4 separate regions of the Homo sapiens genome follow, and all the other regions are linked to region 4. The links come from fine-mapping of genetic effects on gene expression. A gene starts in region 4. Each other region holds a variant in brackets. All regions are shown on one strand. Distances are between the middles of the regions. Region 1 overlaps MAK (male germ cell associated kinase). Region 2 has its middle 10 kb from the start of TMEM14B-DT. Region 3 overlaps TMEM14B (transmembrane protein 14B). Region 4 holds the start of MAK (male germ cell associated kinase).

What was found. PIP is the estimated chance that this variant, and not a neighbour inherited with it, causes the effect.
Region 1: its variant is the best candidate, but not a certain one, in a credible set for the expression of MAK in monocytes after LPS (Fairfax 2014, PIP 0.84).
Region 2: its variant is the best candidate, but not a certain one, in a credible set for the expression of MAK in whole blood (INTERVAL, PIP 0.74).
Region 3: its variant is the best candidate, but not a certain one, in a credible set for the expression of MAK in whole blood (INTERVAL, PIP 0.84).

Annotation. Positions count from the first base shown.
Region 1 is chr6:10,763,379-10,768,529 of GRCh38, reverse strand. MAK (male germ cell associated kinase) reads left to right here. Exons shown (of 15, transcript NM_001242957.3): 15 at 3,924-5,151. The coding sequence ends at 4,078. Among named protein-coding and RNA genes, the nearest start is that of TMEM14B, 18 kb to the right of the region's middle. The variant T/A (reference allele first, on the strand shown) is at 2,538.
Region 2 is chr6:10,734,771-10,739,921 of GRCh38, reverse strand. No RefSeq gene overlaps it. Among named protein-coding and RNA genes, the nearest start is that of TMEM14B-DT, 10 kb to the left of the region's middle. The variant C/T (reference allele first, on the strand shown) is at 1,969.
Region 3 is chr6:10,750,302-10,755,439 of GRCh38, reverse strand. TMEM14B (transmembrane protein 14B) reads right to left here. Exons shown (of 6, transcript NM_030969.5): 4 at 4,206-4,307; 5 at 208-298. It also overlaps the pseudogene RNA5SP203. Among named protein-coding and RNA genes, the nearest start is that of TMEM14B, 5.1 kb to the right of the region's middle. The variant C/G (reference allele first, on the strand shown) is at 2,635.
Region 4 is chr6:10,835,734-10,840,884 of GRCh38, reverse strand. MAK (male germ cell associated kinase) reads left to right here and starts at 2,346. Exons shown (of 15, transcript NM_001242957.3): 1 at 2,346-2,382. RefSeq lists enhancers at 1,664-1,823, 1,874-1,933 and a silencer at 2,154-2,283.

The sequences.
Region 1 (5,151 bases), 72 kb after region 4:
AGCTCACTGCAACCTCCACCTCCCGGGTTCAAACGATTCTCCTGCCTCAGCCTCCCAAGCAGCTGGGATTACAGGCATGCACCACCATGCCCAGCTAATTTTTTTTGTATTTTTAGTAGAGACGCAGTTTCACTGTGTTGGTCAGGCTGGTCTTGAACTCGTGACCTCAAATGATTCACCTGCCTCAGCCTCCCACAAGTGCTGGGATTACAGGCATGAACCACTGCACCCGGCCACATTTTATATTTTTAATATAAAGGCAGAAAATCATAATGTTTCAAATTATTTTGTTACCTAGGTATCTACTCTTATAAATCAAGAGTGGGTCTTTTAAAAAATATTTTTGTAAGATATTGAAGGCCTTTATATATTAATTATTCTATCCAATTAGCATGCATATTCCTGTTTTCATTTTTTTTAAGTAAATGCTTTTTCTTAACTTTTTATTTCTTTACTCTGCTTATCAGATTTTTCTACAGATGGTGATAGGAGGAAAGGTAAAAAATGAAGTAAATATTAATCACTCTCAAGTGGTCAATGCAAATCCTTAGAAAAAACACTGTTCTGTAAGAGATGTGTCTTCCAGTCATGCCAGTTGGGTGACAGTTTCCCACAAGAAAATAAAACCAGGTCATTACCATATTTACTCAACTATTTCCCCCTTCTTGCATAGTCTCGTCTTTGCTCTTCTTTCTCCCCTTCAAGATTTTTGTTTTTGTTTTTTTTTTTTTTTTTTTTTGAGACAAAGTCTCGCTCTGTCACCAGCCTGGAGTGCAGTGGCGTGATCTCAGCTCCCTGCTGCAACCTCTGCCACCCGGGTTCAAGCGATTCTCCTGCCTCAGCCTCCGGAGTAGCTGGGACTACAGGTGCGTGCCACCACGCCCAGCTAATTTATGTATTTTTAGTAGAGATGGGGCAGGATGATCTCGATCTCTTGACCTCGTGATCTGCCTGCCTCGACCTCTCAAAGTGCTGGGATTACAGGCATGAGCCACCGCACCTGGCCTCTACCCTTTAAGTTTTGAGAAGGAAAATCAATGTCTTCCCTCCCATGTAATCTCTCCTTCCCCTAATACTTCCTTATCCCCTGCCTTGAAACTAACAAGGACTTCGAGGAGTGACTTCTGTTCTACACAGCACCCTTTAGGATCACTTTAGAAGTGCAGGATCCTGTTTTAAGCACTCTGTGTACATTAACTCATTAATCCTCCCAGGGCTGTATTCCAGGAGGTACTATTATGATCCGCATCTCACACAAGTTTTATATGTTGCTAAAAGTTGTATCACAGTGGCATCAATTAAATCCATAACTAGAGGCAAACTTCTTTCCTTTAGCATAGATTTTCTACAAGAAGTTAAATGTCCTTGATAGGACAGATGCAGTTTTTAAACACAGAGCAAGCATTGCAAGGCTCACTATCCCTCCCGCTCTTGCAGGGCAGTGAGGTGTGGGGTGGTCCCACTAAGGCACAAAAGCACTTCTTGCCCTGCCACGAGATCTGGGCTCCTCTCAGCTGTTAGGTTCTTCACCAAAGGTACTTGAGTCCTGAAATTCTAGTATATCTAGGAAAGGAATCCTAAATCTCAACACTACCCCCTTCTTAGCAAAATGATTCCCTCTTGAAAAAGTTTTACAAAATATTGTCCTGGACACAATTTCATTTAAAACCATTTAGGACTTAGGTGATATCATGACCTGGAAAAAGGCTTCTCTTTTTGTTACTCCCCAAAGCTCTCACTTCTTGCCCTCAGAGCCACACCCATTAGCCTAATGCCACGTTCCCTTTTCCCTCCCTGAATAAGCGGGGCTTATTGCCTCTCTCCCCGCTCTCTACTCCCCTCCCACGCTGTCTCTTCTACCCCTGCTACCAGTTTGACCTGTGGCCCACATGGGTGAGCTCACTAATTTAGCAGACAGATGCTCGTTTCTATTCCAATGGCTATAACTAAAGGGCTCTTTCTGGAAAACATGGTGCCCTGACTGGCCCTTGTAGACACATTGTCCCTGACTTTGTTAGATAGCTTTTTAGTGGCTTTGACTTTGAGAATTTTAAGCCCAGTAAAAAGAGTGGAATGAAAGGACCTGTCAAACCATGGAGTGGGGAGCTCTTGGCCTCCCTGCCTCCACCAAACTACACGGCAGCCAGGCGGCTGTCTTACCCAGAGTGTCCACACTTAATACCTTGTTCACCCATGCTGAAGTTAGTAGCTTGTCAGGACCACATGCTCACAGAATTCCCTCCTCACTCCCAGTTATACAGTGAAAATTTAAGAAAAACTGTGCAAACCATGCCAGTAAATATGGGATAGCTAGGGCTAGGGGTACAAAATGGTCAGATTCATTTCAGTATTAACACTTAGAGTTTAATCCAAGAATGGCAGCTACTACACAGTGTGAAGAGATATTTAAACCCCAGATGGAAAAAGCAGACATCCCTCCTCAGATACAATACCTGTGATACCTTAGCTCTCAATTCGAGGTGAGGAAAGCGTGAAGGAGGGACTGAAGAAGGCATCAAAAGTTGTCTGTAAAATGA[T/A]CTCCTGCTTTGTCCTTTGAAATGTTGAAGCAGTTTTAGCTCATAAATTGTTCAGATAACAAATGTTCAAGAAATTTTAAATTTTTCACAAATTTTTAAACAGTCAGATATATGAATGAAACAACCTTGTGGTTAAAAGTTTAGGATCCTACCATTTAAGGGAATTGTGTTCCCACCCATGATTTTCCCAATGAGAAATGAAGTATGGGCCGGGTGCGATGGCTCACACCTGTAATCCTAGCACTTTGGGAGGCTGAGGTGGGTGGATCATTGGCAAGGCTGAGGTGGGTGGATCACCTTAGGTCAGGAGTTCCAGACCAGCCTGGCCAACATGGCAAAACCCCATCTCTACTAAAAATACAAAAACTAGCTGGGCGTGGTGGTGCGCCCCTGTAATCCCAGCTGCTCAGAAGGCTGAGGCAAGAGAATCACTTGAACCCGGGAGGTGGAGGTTGCAGTGAGCCGAGATCGCACCATTGCACTCCAGCCTGGGCAACAAGGGCGAAACTCTGCCTCATTAAAAAAAAAAAAAAAAAAAAAAAAAAAAAAAAATCTTCATTCTAAAACCCACATTTTAATGTTTAAAAAGAAATCTATTATAGGACCCCATGTGTGTTCTTCCATGAAGCCACAGTTTTATAGATTCACAATTCCAAATACATTTTTCTGTAGTGATATTGTGTCAATATTATTTAGATGTAACCACAGTGTGATATTACAAAGTCACCAACACTGTGGGTGTTGCCCATTGAATTTGAGCCAATAAATTTTCTTGGTCTTCTTACCTGGCGTTGCCTATCTAAATGTAAAATATTAAAAATAGCAGCAGTGTCAGCACTATAAACCAGGAATAATATTGGCTCTTCAGCTACTGAAAATTCTTTTTTTTTTTTTTTGAGATGGAGTTTCACTCTTGTCGCCCAGGCTGGTGTGCAATGGTATGATCTCGGCTCACTGCAACCACTGCCTCCCGGGTTCAAGTGATTCTCTTGCCTCAGCCTCCTGAGTAGCTGGGATTACAGTCACCCGCCACCACGCTCAGCTGATTTTTTTTGTATTTTTAGTAGAGACAGGGTTTCACCATGTTGGCCAGGCTGGTCTCGAACTCCTGACCTCAGGTGATCCACTTGCTTCAGCCTCCCAAAGTGCTAGGACTACAGGCAGGAGCCACTGCGCCCGGCCAGCTACTGGAAATTCTAATGGATGTCAACATAATACTACACTAGAATTTTTGGTTTTAACATTTAAAAAGCCTCAGAGAGTACTGAGTTAATCTTTTAAACATAAATTCAGATTTTCCCCATCAAATGAGAGGATGAATTTCTTTATTTTGAGTTTGATAAGCAAATGAGTAAAACCCTGTTTTCCAAATCTGATTTCTTTCAGAATATACCTGGAACACAAAAACTGGTCGGGGGCAGTTTTCAGGACGTACTTATAATCCTACAGCAAAAAACCTAAATATTGTGAACCGTGCACAGCCCATTCCCTCAGTGCATGGGAGGACAGACTGGGTGGCCAAGTATGGAGGCCACCGGTAGGAGTCTATGGTGTGAAACCCTACAGCATTGCTCCGTAGAGTACGTGCAAGTTCCTTGACCCTGGGAAATGTCTACAAATGTCTATTTCTACTGAGTTCTGGAAGAAATATGCAAAAGTGGGTACTTGGAAGGGCAAAAATCATCCCCTATTTTACTTATTTCCAAGAAATGCATTTTCTTAGCATCATTGCCCACAGTGTTGATATATGGGTAGGATGTTACAAAGTATTGAATAAACTATTTGCCAAAGTATGAAGTATTTGATCTACAATTTAATAAATAGTAAATCCAATAAGAACCCTTAAAAAAAAACAACTTCCAGAAAATGTTTAGAGTGTTTTAGTTTTCATTTGTTGTATGTGCCCAAATGGTTTAGTAGTTCTTCACTTTGCTGTGGTTGGCTTAAGAGGTTTGTCTTTTGTTTTTGTACAGCAGTTGGGCCAACCTTTGCTGGCTGTCAGCTGTGGTTCTTATTTGACTAAGGCTCTGCGCTGCCATTTTGTCAATGACAGAAAGATTGCAATTATTTGTTTTTCTACTTTGAAGCTATGGGAGCGATGGTAATTTCAATCTTGAGCAGGATATCTTTTTTTTTTTTTTTGAGGCGATGTTTCACTCTTGTGTCCAGGCTGGAGTGCAGTGGCACTATCTTGGCTTACTGCAACCTCCACCTCCTGGGTTCAAGTGATTCTCCTGCCTCAGCCTCCCGAGTAGCTGGGATTAGAGGCGTGTGCCACCATGCCTGGCTAATTTTTGTAGTATTAGTAGAGACAGGGTTTCACCATGTTGGTCAGGCTCAGGCTGGTCTCAAACTCCTGACCTCAGGTGATCCACCTGCCTCGGCCTCCCAAAGTGCAGGGCTTACAGGTGTGAGCCACAGTGCCCAGCTTTTTTTTTTTTTTTTTAGAAATAAATTTATCTTTAACATAGAGAATATCAAAGTTATGCCACTTGATTTTAGTGGACGGCTTGTGTTTTGATCTTGACCAGTACAGTTCCCATGAATTCAAGGTGACAATCAAGCCCAATGGCTTGATGACTTCAATAGTAACCAAGTCAAGGTTCTCTTGGCT
Region 2 (5,151 bases), 100 kb after region 4:
AGCCAGAGGCCGGAGCTCACGCCTGTAATCCCAGCACTTTGGGACGGCGAGGCAGGCGGATCACTTGAGGTCGGTTCGAAACGAGCCTGGTAAACATGGTGAAACCTCGTCTTTACTAAAAATACAAAAATTAGGCGTGGTGGTGTGCGCCTGTAATTCCGGTTACTCGGGAGGCTGAGGCACGAAAATCGCTTGAACCCAGGAGGCGGAGGTTGCAGTGTGCCGAGATCACACCGCTGCACTCCAAACTGGGAGACAAATAGAGACTCTTTTTATTTTTATTTTTATTTTTTATTTTTGAGACGGAGTCTCGCTCTGTCGCCCAGGCTGGAGTGCAGTGGCACGATCTTGGCTCACTGCAAGCTCCGCCTCCCAGGTTCACGCCATTCTCTCGCCTCAGCCTCTGGAGTAGCTGGGACTACAGGCGCCCGCCACCACGCCTGGCTAATTTTTTGTATTTTTAGTAGAGACGGGGTTTCACTGTGTTAGCCAGGATGGTCTTGATCTCCTGATCTCGTGATCTGCTTGCCTCAGCCTCACAAAGTGCTGGGATTACAGGCGTGAGCCACCGCGCCCGGCCGAGACTCTGTCTTAAAAAATAAATAAGAGCCAGTGTCTCATAACATAACACAAATGTGTCCAGAATTCAATAGAAATCACTCAATATATAGTCATGTGCCACATTAACTATGTTTTTGGTCAATGAGAGACCACGTTTATGATGCGAATACTGTAAGATTATAAAACCATATTTTTACTATCCATTTTCTGTGCTTAATTATGTTTAGATATTCAAATACTTACCATTGGCCGGGCGCGGTGGCTCATGCCTGTAATCCCAGCACTTTGGGAGGCTGAGGTGGGCAGATTACCTGAGGTCAGGAGCTCAAGACCAGCCTGGCCAACATGGTGAAACCCCGTCTCTACTAAATATACAAAAATTAGCCAGGCATGGTGGCAGGTGCCTGTAATCTCAGCTACTTGGGAGGCTGAGGCACGAGAATCACTTGAACCTGAGAGATGGAGGTTGCAGTGAGCCGAGATCATGCCATTGCACCCCAGTCTGGGCAACAGAGCAAGACTCTGACTCAAAACAAACAAACAAACAAACAAAAAAAACACCCAGTAGATTTGATCAATGTATTCAGCAAAGACTTACTAAATTCCCTACTGTGTTCTAAGTATATATGGTAGTAACAAAAGTGTTGTTTTTCCTGCCTTTATACAACATTTATTCTAGAGGCAGATATTCAATAAACACACAAAAACATGTATGTTTGCAAATTGTGACGAGTGCTATTAAGAAAAAGAACAGGATGTTATAAGAGCTAAAAGAGAAATGTAAGTGTAGTCAGGGACCATTGAGTAGTTTTAAGTCTAGAAGTCTATACTTGAGCTATGCCTCTGCCTGCTGGGTAAAGAATGACTTATAGGGCCATAGCATGAAAAGAAGTATTCCTTGCAGAAGATTATTTAAATAACCAGGTAAAAGATAGAAAGGGTTGGACTTGGACATTAGCAATATTATGGGAGAGAATGGATTATGGCTATTGATAGAAAGCTATTCGTTTTCAGTGTTGATCTTGTTTCTTGCTGCTTTAAAGATCTCTGTTAGTTCCAATCGGTTTTTAGTTGCTTCTCGTGGATTTTCCAGATAGATAATTATCAGCTGTTAAAAATGTTTAAGTTATTTTCTACTATTAATTTATACCTCTCAAATTATCTTTTTTATTGCTTTGTCTAATTTCTCTAGAACTATGTTGAATGTTGCCAGTGATAGTAAACATCCTATTATTTCTAACTTTAACATAAAGCCATAGAATCAGATAAAAAGTAGCTCATAAAAACCGAAAGCAAGTAATATGCTTGAGTGAGGTGACAGAAGCAGCAATATTAACGTCAGGAATTCATTTTGTTCAGACTGATATCTAGTTAGAAAATACATGAAAAAGTACCCATTCATAATAA[C/T]AAAACTATAAAATACTATAAAATACAAAAAATTCAAAATACCACAAAACTATAAAATAATCCACGATCTTACTAAAAGTGTAAAGTACTATGTGAATAAAGCTCTAAAATATTGTTTTAGGACATTTTTTAAAAAACCTGAACTTGCCGGGTGTGGTGGCTCATGCCTGTAATCCATTTGCCAGCTGAGGTGGGTAGATCACCTGAGGTCAGGAGTTCAAGACCAGCCTGGCCAACATGGCGAAATGCTGCCTCTACTAAAAACACAAAAATTAGTCAGGTGTGGTGGCAGGCTCCTGTAATCCCAGCTATTTGGGAGGCTGAGGCAGGACAATTGCTTGAACCTGGGAGGCAGAAGTTGCAGTGAGCTGAGATCATGCCACTGCACTCTAGCCTGGGCGACAGAGCGAGACACTGTCTCAAAAAAAAAAAAAAAAGTCTGGGTGCAGTGGCTCACACCTGTAATCGCAGCACTTTGGGAGGCTGAGGCAGGTGGATCACCTGAGGTTGGGAGTTTAAGACCAGCCTGGCCAACATGGTGAAACCCCGTCTCTACTAAAAATACAAAAGTTAGCTAGCTGTGGTGGTGCACGCCTGTAATCCCAGCTACTTGGGAGGCTGAGGGAGGAGAATCACTTGAACCCAGGAGGCGGAGGTTGCAGTGAGCCAAGATCACGCCACTGCACTCCAGCCTGGGCAACAGACAAAGACTCTGTCTCAAAACAAACAAACAAACAAACAAAACACCTGAATTAAATGAAGGAACATACAATGTTCCTGGATAAGAGGAAATATTTTAAAGCTTTCAATCTCCTTCATTATCTATCAATGTGTCATAATAAAATCCCAAGTAAAATTTAAAAATTAAAAGGCTAATTCTAACAAAAAAGGAAAAAAAATAAAAAAACAAACAAGCAGAAAGGCTAATTCCAGATTTAGCTTGTAAAGTTACTGTGTCAGGAAAAATCTGAAAAGCAACGACAGACTTGTCCGACTAAATATCAGCATATGGTACAAAGCTACAGTAATTAATACAATTTGGCACTGGGACAGAAAATAAAGAAATCCCTGGAAGAGGCTAGAAAACCCAGAATCAATTCCAAATACAGAAATTCAGCACATGGTAAAAGTGGCATTCCAAAGCAATGAGGAATTAACATTTTTCAATAAATAATATTAAGGTAATGGCTATATTTTGGAGAAAATAATCAGATCCCTAATTTGCACCATCACACACAAAAATAAATTCTAAAGTAGCATTAAAAATAGAAGTGCTCTCACCACACAAGAAATGGTAATTTGGTAATATGACAGCTTAGCTTGATTGAATCTTTCTATAATACATACAGAGATTAAAACATCACATCACATTGTACCCCATAATATGGACAATTATTTGTTAATTAATAAATTTTAAAAATAGAAACCTAAAAGATAAAACTATAAAAGCATTGGAAGAAAATAAGATAATTTCAGGCCAGGTATGGTGGCTCACGCCTGTAATCCCATCGCTTTGGGAGGCCGAGGCGAGTGGACCACTTGAAGTCAAGAGTTCAAGACAAGCCTGGCCAACATGGTGAAACCCCCGTCTTTATTAAAAATACAAAATTAACCAGGCATGGTGGCATGCGCCTGTAATCCCAGCTACTTGGGAGGCTGAAGCAGGCGAATCCCTTGAACCCAGGACACAGAGGTTGCAGTGAGCTGAGATCGTGCCACTGCACTCCAGCCTGGGCAATGGAGCAAGACTCCAACTCAGAAAAAATTGAATAAATAAACTATAAACTAAGTTCTTCCCACAGTTAGTTCAGCCCACACCAGAATGAACAAGGACAGCTTGGACGGTAGAAGCAAGATGGCGTTGGTTAGGTCAGATCTCTTTCACTGTCTCAGTTATAATTTTGCAATGCTGGCCAGGCGGGGTGGCTCGCACCTGTAATCTCAGCACTTTGGGAGGCCGAGGGGGGCGGATCACAAGGTCAGGAGATCGAGACCATCCTGGCTAACACGGTGAAACCCCATCTCTACTAAAAATACAAAAAATTAGCCAGGCGTGGTGACACGTGCCTGTAGTCCCAGCTACACAGGAGGCTGAGGCAGAAGAATTGCTTGAACCTGGGAGGCGGAGGTTGCAGTGAGCCGAGATGGCACCACTGCACTCCTGCCTGGGCATCAGAGCAAGACTCCGTCTCAAAAAAAAAAAAAAATTGCAATAGTGGTTTCAATCTGAAAGCCATAAAGAAAATATAATAAATTTGATTTCATAAATGTTTACTTTCTGTACAACGGCAAAAAAAACACATAAACAAAATCGAGACACAAATAACAAGTGAGAGGAAAATATTTTCAATACATATGATAGGGAACACATTTTTATACTACATAGAAAGTCTCAGACTATCCAATGTTTTCAATTAAAAAACAAAAAAACCAAAAACATGGACAAAAGGGATGAAAGACTGCTCACAGAAAAAATATAACTGGTCAATAAATGTATGAAAGATGTAATAATTCATAACTAAATCACTGAAACCATTAGATAACATTTTTTGGGTAGATCGGGGGTGGCATGACTATGGTCAGTGAGCTAATTCTAGTCCATTGCCTGTTTTTGTGCAGACAGCAAGCTAAGAACGGTTTTGCATTTTTAAATGGTTGAAGAAAATAAAAATAAGATTACTATTTTGTAATATGTAGAAATCATATGAAATCCAGATTTCAAGGCCCATAAGTACAGTTTTATTGGAACAGTCACCCTTGCTTATTTACTTATTGGCTATGGCTGCTTTCATCCTACAAAGGCAGAGATGAGCAGCTGGGACAAAGATGGCCTGCGAAGCCTAAAATATTCATATCTGGCCCTTTACAGAAAAAGTTTGCAGACTCCTAGCTTCATGTGTCAAAGATTTTTAAAAAGTCCAATTCCACAAAGTTAGCCACCACTGGAAGTAGGGTAAATTGGTGCATTTTCTTCTGAGGGCAATCACAACTTGAACTGCTGAGATGCTCTGACACAGCGTTTAGGAATGTAACCTACAGATTCCTTTGCACATGTTCACGGGGATTTCCAAAGATATTCCTTGGTAAACCATCTGTTTTTTTTTTTTTTTTTTGACACGGAGTCTCACTCTGTCTCCCAGGCTGGAGTGCAGTGCGATCTCGGCTCACTGCAATCTCCGCCTC
Region 3 (5,138 bases), 85 kb after region 4:
CCATCTCCACAGTGAATGGATATACTCATGTCATTTGACATTAAATCAACTATTGTTTTTGAAGCATCTCCTATTAGTGTATAAGTCAAACGTCAGTTGATGCATAGCATCAGATACTCTGAAACAAGTAAGGTTTTGAATGCATAAAGTATTCTGGGCAATAAACTGAACTCTACATGGTAAAGAAGAGTAATAGAATGAAAGTACCTGGCACCTGCAATTAAACCTACAGGCATGAATTTTCCATAGTAGTAGGATCTCATTCCCATAACACCAACAAAAGTAACAGATGTAGCGGCTGAAAAAGATACAAAGAAGGGTCAAAACTCATTAGTCTTCTACGCAGGGGAATCAGAAGTAGACCAAGCCCCACCAATCTCTCAAGGCTCACGCCTCATCCTATGCTTATTCCTCCTTCCCCAAGTAGGGGAGATTACTAGCTGCCCACATCCTATGGGTCCAAATACCAATACTGGCCAAATAGGGCCCTTCACAGCCTGGGCCCTACCTGCCCTTCCAGCCTCATCTCTTACCACTTGTCTTCTGCAAAACCCACACTTTAGCCATCAATGTGTTAGTTTTCTCCAAAATGCTGTTGTTTCTCATGCCCTGCAGATGCTATCGCCCTGCAGACGCTATTTCCTCTACCCTGCATGCAATTCCCACTGGGTATCTGTCAAAGCACCTACTACATGTCAAGCGCTGTGCTAGGAGCTGGAGAATACAAAAGTAATCGTAACTGTCTTTGCCCTTTTACAATGCTTCAGGTCTGATGGGACAAGACTTTAAACAATCACACAAAGAAAAACAAGGTACAATGTGTGCTTCAGGTATAATTGATGCTACACAAAAAAGCTCAACAGGGGGATCAACCTATTCAGGGAGATCATGCTAGGCTTTTAGCCAAGGAAGTGAAGACTGACTGAGATCTGAAATTACAGCAGGCGTTAATAAGCTGAAGGATGGGAATGCCCTTTCCAGGCAGAGGGGACAGTATATGCAGAGGCCCTGTGGTGACAGGGAGCATGGCACATTCACCCTAAAAGGGCAGCGTGGCACAGAAGTCAAGATGCAGTTTGTGAGTAAGAGGCGCCAGACCACATAGAGCCTTGAAGGCCATACTAAGGATTGGGTTTTCATCATAAGAGCAATGAGAAGCTATTAAAGGATACTAAGCAGAGGGATGCATAAAAAGAGTTGCATTATTATTATTATTTTTTGAGACAGAGTCTCACTCTGCAACACACGCTGGAGTGCAGTGGCATGATCTCAGCTCACTACAACCTCTACCTCCCAGGTTCAAGCAATGCTGAAGCCTTTTTTAATTTTAGTGGAGACCGGGTTTCACCATGTTGCCCAGGGTGGTCTCCAACTCCTGAGCTCGGCAATCCGCCTGCCTTGGCCTCCCAAAGTGCTAGGACTACAGGCAGGAGCCACCGCAACCGGCCCAGAGTTGCATTTTGAAAGCGTAATTCTAGCTATACTATAGAGAACAAACTTCAGGGAAACTAGAGGGTACATGGGGATACCAGCTAAGGAACGTCCTTGGGAATGCAGGTAAGAAAGAGGGGATAACTGGGACTAGGACGATGGCTGTGCAGATGAAAAAGAGGACAACTCAGGATAAGGGCTAGAGGTAGTGTCGACAAGACCTGCTGATGAATTAGTCAGAAAGGGGGTGGTAGAAAGGAAAGAGAGCAATCAAGAACCGAATGGATGGAGAACAGAAGACAGGGGGAGTGTGTGGCCATGAGGTTAGGTCCGGGCAGATTCCTGGAGACATCTGAAGGAAAGTGGACAGATGAATACATGAGAGTCCAGCCTGGAGGAGAGAGAAATTTGTGTCATTTGTGTATCGGTGGAAATTAAAGGCATAGGCTTCAATGAAACTGTCAAGTGAGTAGACAAGAAGAGCCTGAAGAACTTCAATATCTAGTGGCCAAAAAGGAAAATAGGTTGCCAAAAGAGAATGAGAGGATAAAAAGGGAAACCAGGAGAATGGAAAATGATTGGTCAACCGTGCTGAGAACTGCTAAATGGCCAAGTAAAATGAGGACTGAAAAATGTACATTGGATTTTGTACAAACACAGGTCACTGGCAGCCTCAGGGAGAGCTATTCCACAAACACAGGGACAGAAACAGAGACTGAAATGGGCTGATCATGTGTGATGGGAGAGGAGGCATAAATGATCTTTATTTTTTGAAACGGAGTTTCGCTCTTGTTGCCCAGGCTGGAGTGCAGTGGCGTCATCTCGGCTCACCGCGACCTCCACTTCCCGGGTTCAAGCGATTCTCCTGCCTCAACCTCCTGAGTGGCTGGGATTACAGGTGACAGCCACCAAGCCCGGCTAATTTTGTATTTTTAGTAGAGATGGGGCTTTCTCCAAGTTGGTCAGACTGGTCTCCAACTCCCGACCTCAGGTGAGCCGCCTGCCTCGGTCTCCCAAAGTGCTGGGATTATACGAGTGAGCCACCGCGCCCAGCTGCATAAATGATCTTTAAGAAGTTTGTGGTCTACCGCCATACCACCCTGAATGTGCTAGATCTTGTCTGATCCCAGAAGCAAAGCAGGGTCGGTCCGGTCCTGCATGGTACTTGGATGGGAGACTACCACCCCACCTTCGGGGAAACAC[C/G]AGGTGCTGTAGGCTTTTGGCCTCCCACTCCCTCCCTCTTTCCCTCTTGGCTGGGCGTGCTGCCTCATGGCTGTAATCCCAGCACTTCGGGAGTCCAAGGTGGGCAGATCACCTGAGGTCAGGCGTTCCAAACCAGCCCAGACAACATGGCAAAAACCCTGCACCTGCTAAAAATGCAAACGTTAGCCTGACATGGTGGGAGACACCTGTAATCCCAACTACCTAGAAGGCTGAGGCAGGAGAACCACTTGAATCCAAGAGGCGGAGGTTGCAGTGAGCCAAGACCGCGCCACTGCACTCTAGCCTGGGCAACACAGTGAGACTCCGTCTCAAAAAAAAAAAAAAAAAAAAAAGGTAGTTTATGAAGGGGAAGGAGACAAGCACATCTGAATATCAATGCGGGGATCCACCTAAAAGGAGGAATACAAATACAAGACAGGATCCTGGCCAGTGTAAAGGTCTGGAGACGGTCAGGGAGAAGACACCCAAAGCCCAGAGGAAGACACTGGTGTTGGAAAGGAGGGAAACAGGACGAGGGGAGGCTTGGAGATTAAAGGCTCCAGGAGTCCCCACCTGATGGCTGCTGTTTTTTCTCTACAATAGGTGTGAGGTCATTTGCTGAGTGGAGTAGGATCAGAGAAAGGGAAAATGCAGGCTCAAGTCATTCTGGAGCATGAGGGAGGGAGCTGTTAGGCAGAGCTGGGACCTGGACACACCTCCTTCCCCAGCACACCCCATTAGCCATCACGGACCTCCCTTCCCCACCCCAGCTGATATGTACAGATCACACGGCTTCTCCCTCCCACATGGCACTCATTCTCACACGGGGTTTGTAGAGACCGCAAGGAACCCACACTCATAGCAGTGTCTGACACATGGGTGGAGCTCCACAGAAATGTACTGAAAACCACTCTGATGAGGACTCTTATGTCCTCCACACCACTCACTGTCCTCACTGTCCGTGCTGCTCACAGGGTACCTTTCCAGTCCTGCTTCTATGCTCATGTCTTACTTCCCCAGTGAAGTCAGTTGAAAGCTCCTTGAAAGCATGGTCTACGTCTTATATATTTAGTTAGCTGACTGCTAAAGAGGTGATTTTCAAATGTGAAAAACGTAACGCAGCTGCAAACCTAACCCAGATACGTGATATTTTAGTGATACTGAGGCCAATGGTCTTCAGCGGAAAACCTCAACGGTTGACACATATTTGTCTTATACAAGTTTAATGCTGACTTTACTGGGTAAATATGGGTAATACAAGTTTGATACTAATTCTACTGGGTAAACACTGAAAATAAGGCCCACAGAGGATGGATGACTTTCTGAGAGTCACACAATTCACAAGGTATGGAAATCTTTCCATATTATCTACATAAACAATAAACAGGAACCAGGACAATTCCCACCACCCTTCTCCTATTTTAAAACTTTGAGGACTTGGACTTGGAGAAGCAGTGAAACTGTCGTAAATTAAGTGGGAAGAACTCGCTCCATCCCACCAAACCAGGGTCTTTTGGAAAAGAATATTCCAGATACATGATTGCCCTAAGGAGACGCTGAAGCAGACATACCTAGGAAACCCCAAACGTTCCTTGGATCCTGATACAGCTGGTAAGCACCCAGGCCGGCTAGACTGCCGAAGAGCAGCCCTGCAGCCAGGGACGGCACGCTGCCTAGAAGGAAGCAAACGCAGCTTGCATTGTAATGTCAGGCACTTATTTCACTAACGGAATCCACCAGACCTCCTGCCCTACAAAGGACAGCACAAAGAACTCTCAACACAGCTCACAGCCAAGGTGGACTCAAGCAGGAAGGCGTTAAGGAGAGTGTGCTATCTTCTCAGAGAAGTCAGGGTCTTCCCACCCCATTTTTCTCTCCTCTAATAGGCAGGGCACTTCCATCTAAGGAAAGGAAAGAAGGCCATCTTCCCTCCTTAGACAGAACTATGACTAGGCCTTCTTTTGTAATGCCTAACCTTGTTTTTACTAACCCTGTTTTTAGACTCTCCCTTTCCTTTAATCACCTAGCCTTGTTTCCACCTGAATTGACTCTTCCTTAGCTAAGAGAGCCAGACAGACTCCATCTTGGCTCTTTCACTGGCAGCCCCGTCCTCAAGGACTTAACTTGTGCAAGCTGACTCCCAGCACATCCAAGAATGCAATTAACTGATAAGATACTGTGGCGAGCTATATCCGCAGTTCCCAGGAATTCGTCCGATTGATAATGCCCAAAGCCCCGCGTCCATCACCTTGTAATAGTCTTAAAGCCCCTGCACCTGGAACTGTTTACTTTCCTGTAACCATTTATCCTTTTAACTTTTTTGCCTACTTTACTTCAGTAAAATTGTTTTAACTAGACCCCCCCCCCACCCCATTCTAAACCAAAGTATAAAAGAAAATCTAGCCCCTTCTTCAAGGCCGAGAGAACTTTGAGTGTTAGCCGTCTTTTAGGCCCCAGCTAAATAAACAGACTCTTAATTCGTCTCAAAGTGTGGCGTTTTCTCT
Region 4 (5,151 bases):
GCTTGTTATCTCTCACATCCTCCATCCCTAAATCAGCTCCTCCTCTATTATTTTCCAACTTGGTCATGGATACCACTATCCACCAGTCATCTAAGCCTGATGGTCCTGCCGATTTTAACTCCTAAACATCCCTTGAATTCTGTCTTTCTCTGTCCTATTTCCATCATCACTGCTAGAGTTGGATCCTTATCATTTCTTCCCAGTCAGTTGGGAGAAAGACTCCCAATCTTTCTCTTGCCTCCAGACTTGCAGCTCAAATCCACCCTACCCACTGCTCCTCTTGGGATCTTTCTGAAATGCAAATGTGAACATGTCACTCTTCTGTGGGAGATTCTTCACTGGTCTTCCTCATTGACACATGTTAAAGCTTAGGCTTCATAACTGGGTATATAAAGCTGCTATGACCTATCTAACTTATGCTTTTTACTTTGCCTGCCTACTTCACTTATTTATTGGAGAGCAATGAATCTTTTATTTATTATTATTATTATTGAGACGGAGTTTTGCTTTTGCTGCCCAGGCTGGAGTGCAATGGTGTGATCTCAGCTCACTGCAACCTCCGCCTCCTGGGTTCAAGCTATTCTCCTACCTCAGCCTCCCAAGTAGCTGGGATTACAGGCATGCGCCACCACGCCTGGCTAATTTTTTGTAGTTTTAGCATTTTAGTAGAGATGGGGTTTCTCCAGGTTGGTCAGACTGGTCTCAAACTCCCGACCTCAGGTGATCCGCCCACCTCGGCCTCCCAAAGTGCTGGGATTACAGGCATGAGCCACCGCGCCTGGCCATTTATTATTATTATTATTTTGAGACAGAGTCTTGCTCAGTCACCCAGGCTGGAGTGCAGTGGCACGTTCTCCGCTCACTGCAACCTCTGCCTCCTGGGTTCAAGTGATTCTCCTGCCTCAGCCTCCCGAGTAGCTGGGATTACAGGCATGTGCCACCACACCCAGATATTTTTTGTATTTTTAGTAGAGATGGGGTTTCACCATGTTGGCCAGGCTGGTCTTGAACTCCTGACCTCAGGTGAGCCACTCACCTGGGCCTCCCAAAGTGCTGGGATTACAGGCATGAGCCACTGAGCCCCGTCTGTTTTTAAATGTTTATTTCAATAGCTCTTGGGGTACAAGTGGTTTTTTGTTACATAGATGAATTATATAGTGGTGAATTCTGAGATTTTAGTGCACCCATCATCTGAGTAGTGTATATGGTACCTAGTGCATAGTTTTTTTTATCCCTAGGCTCTCTCCCATCCTCCCCTTTCTGAGTCTCCAAAGTCCATTATTTCACTGTGTATGCCTTTGCATACTCATAGCTTGGCTTTTGCTTATAAGTGAGAACATACAGTTTTTGGTTTTCCACGCCTGTATTACTTTGCGTAGAATAAGGACCTCCCACTCTTCCAAGTTGTTGCAAAAGACATTATTTCATTCTTTTTTTGTGACTGAGTAGCAGCCTATGGTGTATATATACCACATTTTCTTTATCCACTCATTAGTCAATGGGCACTTAGATTGGTTCCACATCTTTGCAATTGTGAATTGTGCTGCCATAAACATACGCGTGAAAGCCTACTTCACTTTAAGCTGTGAGGGCCACAGGCATGTCTGTCGTGTCTACCTTGGCGCTATTCTTGGTCCCAAGCCCACATCCTGACACCTAATAATTACTAACTTGCCGCACCACTGCTTCATCACTTATGTTTCTGTTTCGTAGACCCTTTTTGCCAGCCAATCTGAACTATTTGCAGTAACACAAGTGTGCCTTCCTCTCTAAATTCTAGACTAGTTACAATTTACCCATTTATTCACACATTCAGTCATTTTTCTTGGAATTACCACTATCTAACTCTGTGGCTGATACTAGGCAGGTTCTCTGAATGAATAAATGGAAACAAACTTAGAAGGGCAGCTCAAGAGGTAATACATACCCAAGGAATTGACCAATTTAAGGAACTGCATACAAGAACAGTTTTTCCCCAGGCACAAGTAAACAAGTGCAAGTATGAGGCAAACAGACTTCCTTCTCTTGCTCTGCCCGGTCTGGGAACCATATTTTAATTAATCAAGACTTTGTAGAATGAATCGGAACAAAACCAAAACAAAATAAAGGGCAAACAAACCAACTTCTGACAAAGACCTGACTGAAAAGGTAATCAACTCCCCTAAACCCCAAGTCTAAATGGCACACTTGCTGCAGCTCAGCCGACAGTCCCCCGGCTCCATGAAGCCCCGCCCCGGGGAAGGCGGGGCCTGCGGGAATTGGCGGGGATTTCCCGCGAGGCCACGCCCTCTCTGGGCCGGCCGTAGGCCCGCCTGCTGCCCCCGCCGTTTCCTAGGAGATGAAACACACAAGACGCCGGAGCTTCACAAGGGAGCGAACGAGGTAAGCAGCAGGCGCGGACAGGTAATCCCCAGCGGGCTGCAGGGCCACCACCCTCTGTCCGACCCAGCCGGAGCCCGACCTGCGAGGCTGGCCGGGCATGTCCCCTCGGCGCCCTGTGCTACCAGGGCCAATCTCCGCCCGGAGACCGGTCCCTGACGCCGGTAGGGGAAGGACTGGAGGGAGGAGGGTCCCCGGAGGGGCGGAGCGGGCGGGAGTGGTCAGCCCGAGGGAAGGCGGTCGGTGTCTCCCAGACCTCTTGACCACTTTCCCGCCTCCTGGACCGCGGGGGCCGGCCTGGCGTGGGAGGATGACGGCCGGGCGTCCCTTAGCCTGAGACCCCCGCCCCTAAACTCTCCTCCGGGATCTCCCACCTCTGCTCCCCTGCTGCTTGGGCTGGCGGTGGAAACTGTTTTTAGGACAGAGAGGCAGGATTGGGTCTCAGGGAGGCAGCGGAACTGAGTTCAGAACTGTTGCAAAATCTAAAAGGAGGGAGAAAAACAGGAATTAGGTCCGACTCCAGCCCTCGCTGGTGCATCCCAAAGGACGCTCAGGTGAAAGTGGAATTCCGCACACCCCCGTCCCCCCCAACGGCGCCGGACTCCCGGCGCCCGGGGACGCCCCCTCCTTCCACCACGCGGTCCCTGGAGCCTTTTAAGAGCCCTGGTTTGCAGAGTCGGATCAGAAAGTGTGTGACGAAAACTGTCCCTTTTCTGCAAGTAATCCGTTTTAATTTAGGGACAGGTCGAGAGTGCGGTGTCGAGAGCAATAAAACTGGTTTTTAGTGGTTAGTAATCTCAATCCTACAAGGAAAGAGCTGTATGCAAATGTGGTTAGATAATCGTTTAAAAGAAACAGACATTTGTTCTAATGATAACGGAATTCTCAAAGAGGGAAGCCAAAGTTATCTGACTTTATTTATTCAGAAACACAACCCATTAAGTGAAATAATGGTGAAAACAAAAGTGACTTTCCAGCTTTTCGATCGGGCCCCGCCTCCCCGGCCCTTCAATTCCCGAGGCTTGACCGGGAGGGAGAAAGTTCCCCCAACCGCGCCACCGCCTGCTTCCACTGCAGGCACCGGGCAGGACGTTTAATCTCTTCGTCGGGGTGGACTTTTTTTGTGTATAAGCTTTGAAATAATTTGTGAATATGAGCACAGAGAACTGTGCTTTTATATTTTAAGATACAGTCTTTGTTTTCCCATTGTAATAGCTCATTTAATTTCTGTAAAACTTCGACTTGGTTAGTTTGGGATCTTTTTTTCCTGCGTTGCTTTTTAAAGAGTTTGGTGACTTTTAAAACGTTAATTACTCTTTTGTTGTGTATTAGAAGCGTTAAGCCAGCCTCGGAGTGACATAATATGTTCTAGAAAGCCACGTTGAAGACATCCAAGCCTTATCTCTTCAGTTTTTGGCAGACGCTTGTTTTACCCTTCATTTGCCCTCTTTGCTAATCTTCTTTAATCCTATCTGAATCTCTTATTAGCTGGCAAAAGCTGTTGAGAGTAAAGGCTATATTTACAACAATTGTGCACTTAGAGAAACGGTAATTATGAACTTAGATTAAAAAGTTGAAAACTAGAATGAGAGATAAATTATAAGGGTATTTATTTTTGTGTAGGTCTATAATTAAGCCTCTAAATAAGCATCTTTTTCTTTAACCCATAGGAAGGTCAATAAATGTTATAGCTTGATTGTAGAAAATTCCAAGTTTTTAACAATTCTGTTAAATTGAGGATGATAGTTATATTTACTTGGGTTTTTTGTTGCATATGTATCATATCTATATATATTCATGTACATAAGAAACTGTGTTAATATATTCCTATTTTGTAGATTAGTTTTCCATAGGTCAACAGAGAAGAATATATGTAACTTGTAGAGAAATATTATTGTGCGTGAACTGGAGAACCATGGGAAGCCTGTGTTTAAGGAACATAGACTGCTTTTTGATTAGTAATCAGTAGTTGCTATGCCACATTGATAAAAGTAGTTGCTTATGTGCTATCAGGGAGCAGGGACATGGAATAATGATTTTTTAAAAGCTTTACCTTGATGTCTATGTCTCTACATTAGACAATTGTATGTTCAGGGGATAGAAGGAACAGTTGCAATGATCAGCGTCTCACCCTGGGCAGCTGTTGATTTTGTAATTAATGTAGTTCAAAAGAAGCCTTTCCAAAGTTTTTTCTTAGGGAGCGCAGTATGTAAAGTTGTTTTACTTAAAGGTTAGGTAGGGCTTAAATGGGACAGATCCTCACAGAACCACTAATCTGACCTTTTAAAAATCTATGTCACGTCCGTAATCCTCAACACTCCACCCCTCAAACAGAAAGGAGCTGGGAAATGGTCGTGTTCCTTGCTTATTCTTCCCTCAATATAAGTACACCCTATCCTATAGCCATCATCCGTTGAAAGACAATTGGTGTTGCCGGTGTTTATTCAGAAGTTGATTGGTTAGGCTTGGAATGAAGTTGCCAAAATAGCCACTCGCAAAGAGACTGTGCACGCAGGCTTGGGTCGAAAGTCATCAGTGACTGAATGCTCTATTGTGCTGATAGTGCTGGTGCAGCTTCAGGTCACCCTCCCACCCCAGGGCGGTGGTGATGGGGGTGGCTGATGGCCTTAATAGTGGAAGAGAGAGGTGTAATTAATTCTTAATTTTTAGATTGTTGGGCCAATGAAGGTGATTTTTTTGTCACTCTTTGTGTTTCCACTTCCTGAATAACACTCGCTACCATCATTACCATGCAACCAGAGGCAGCTCCCT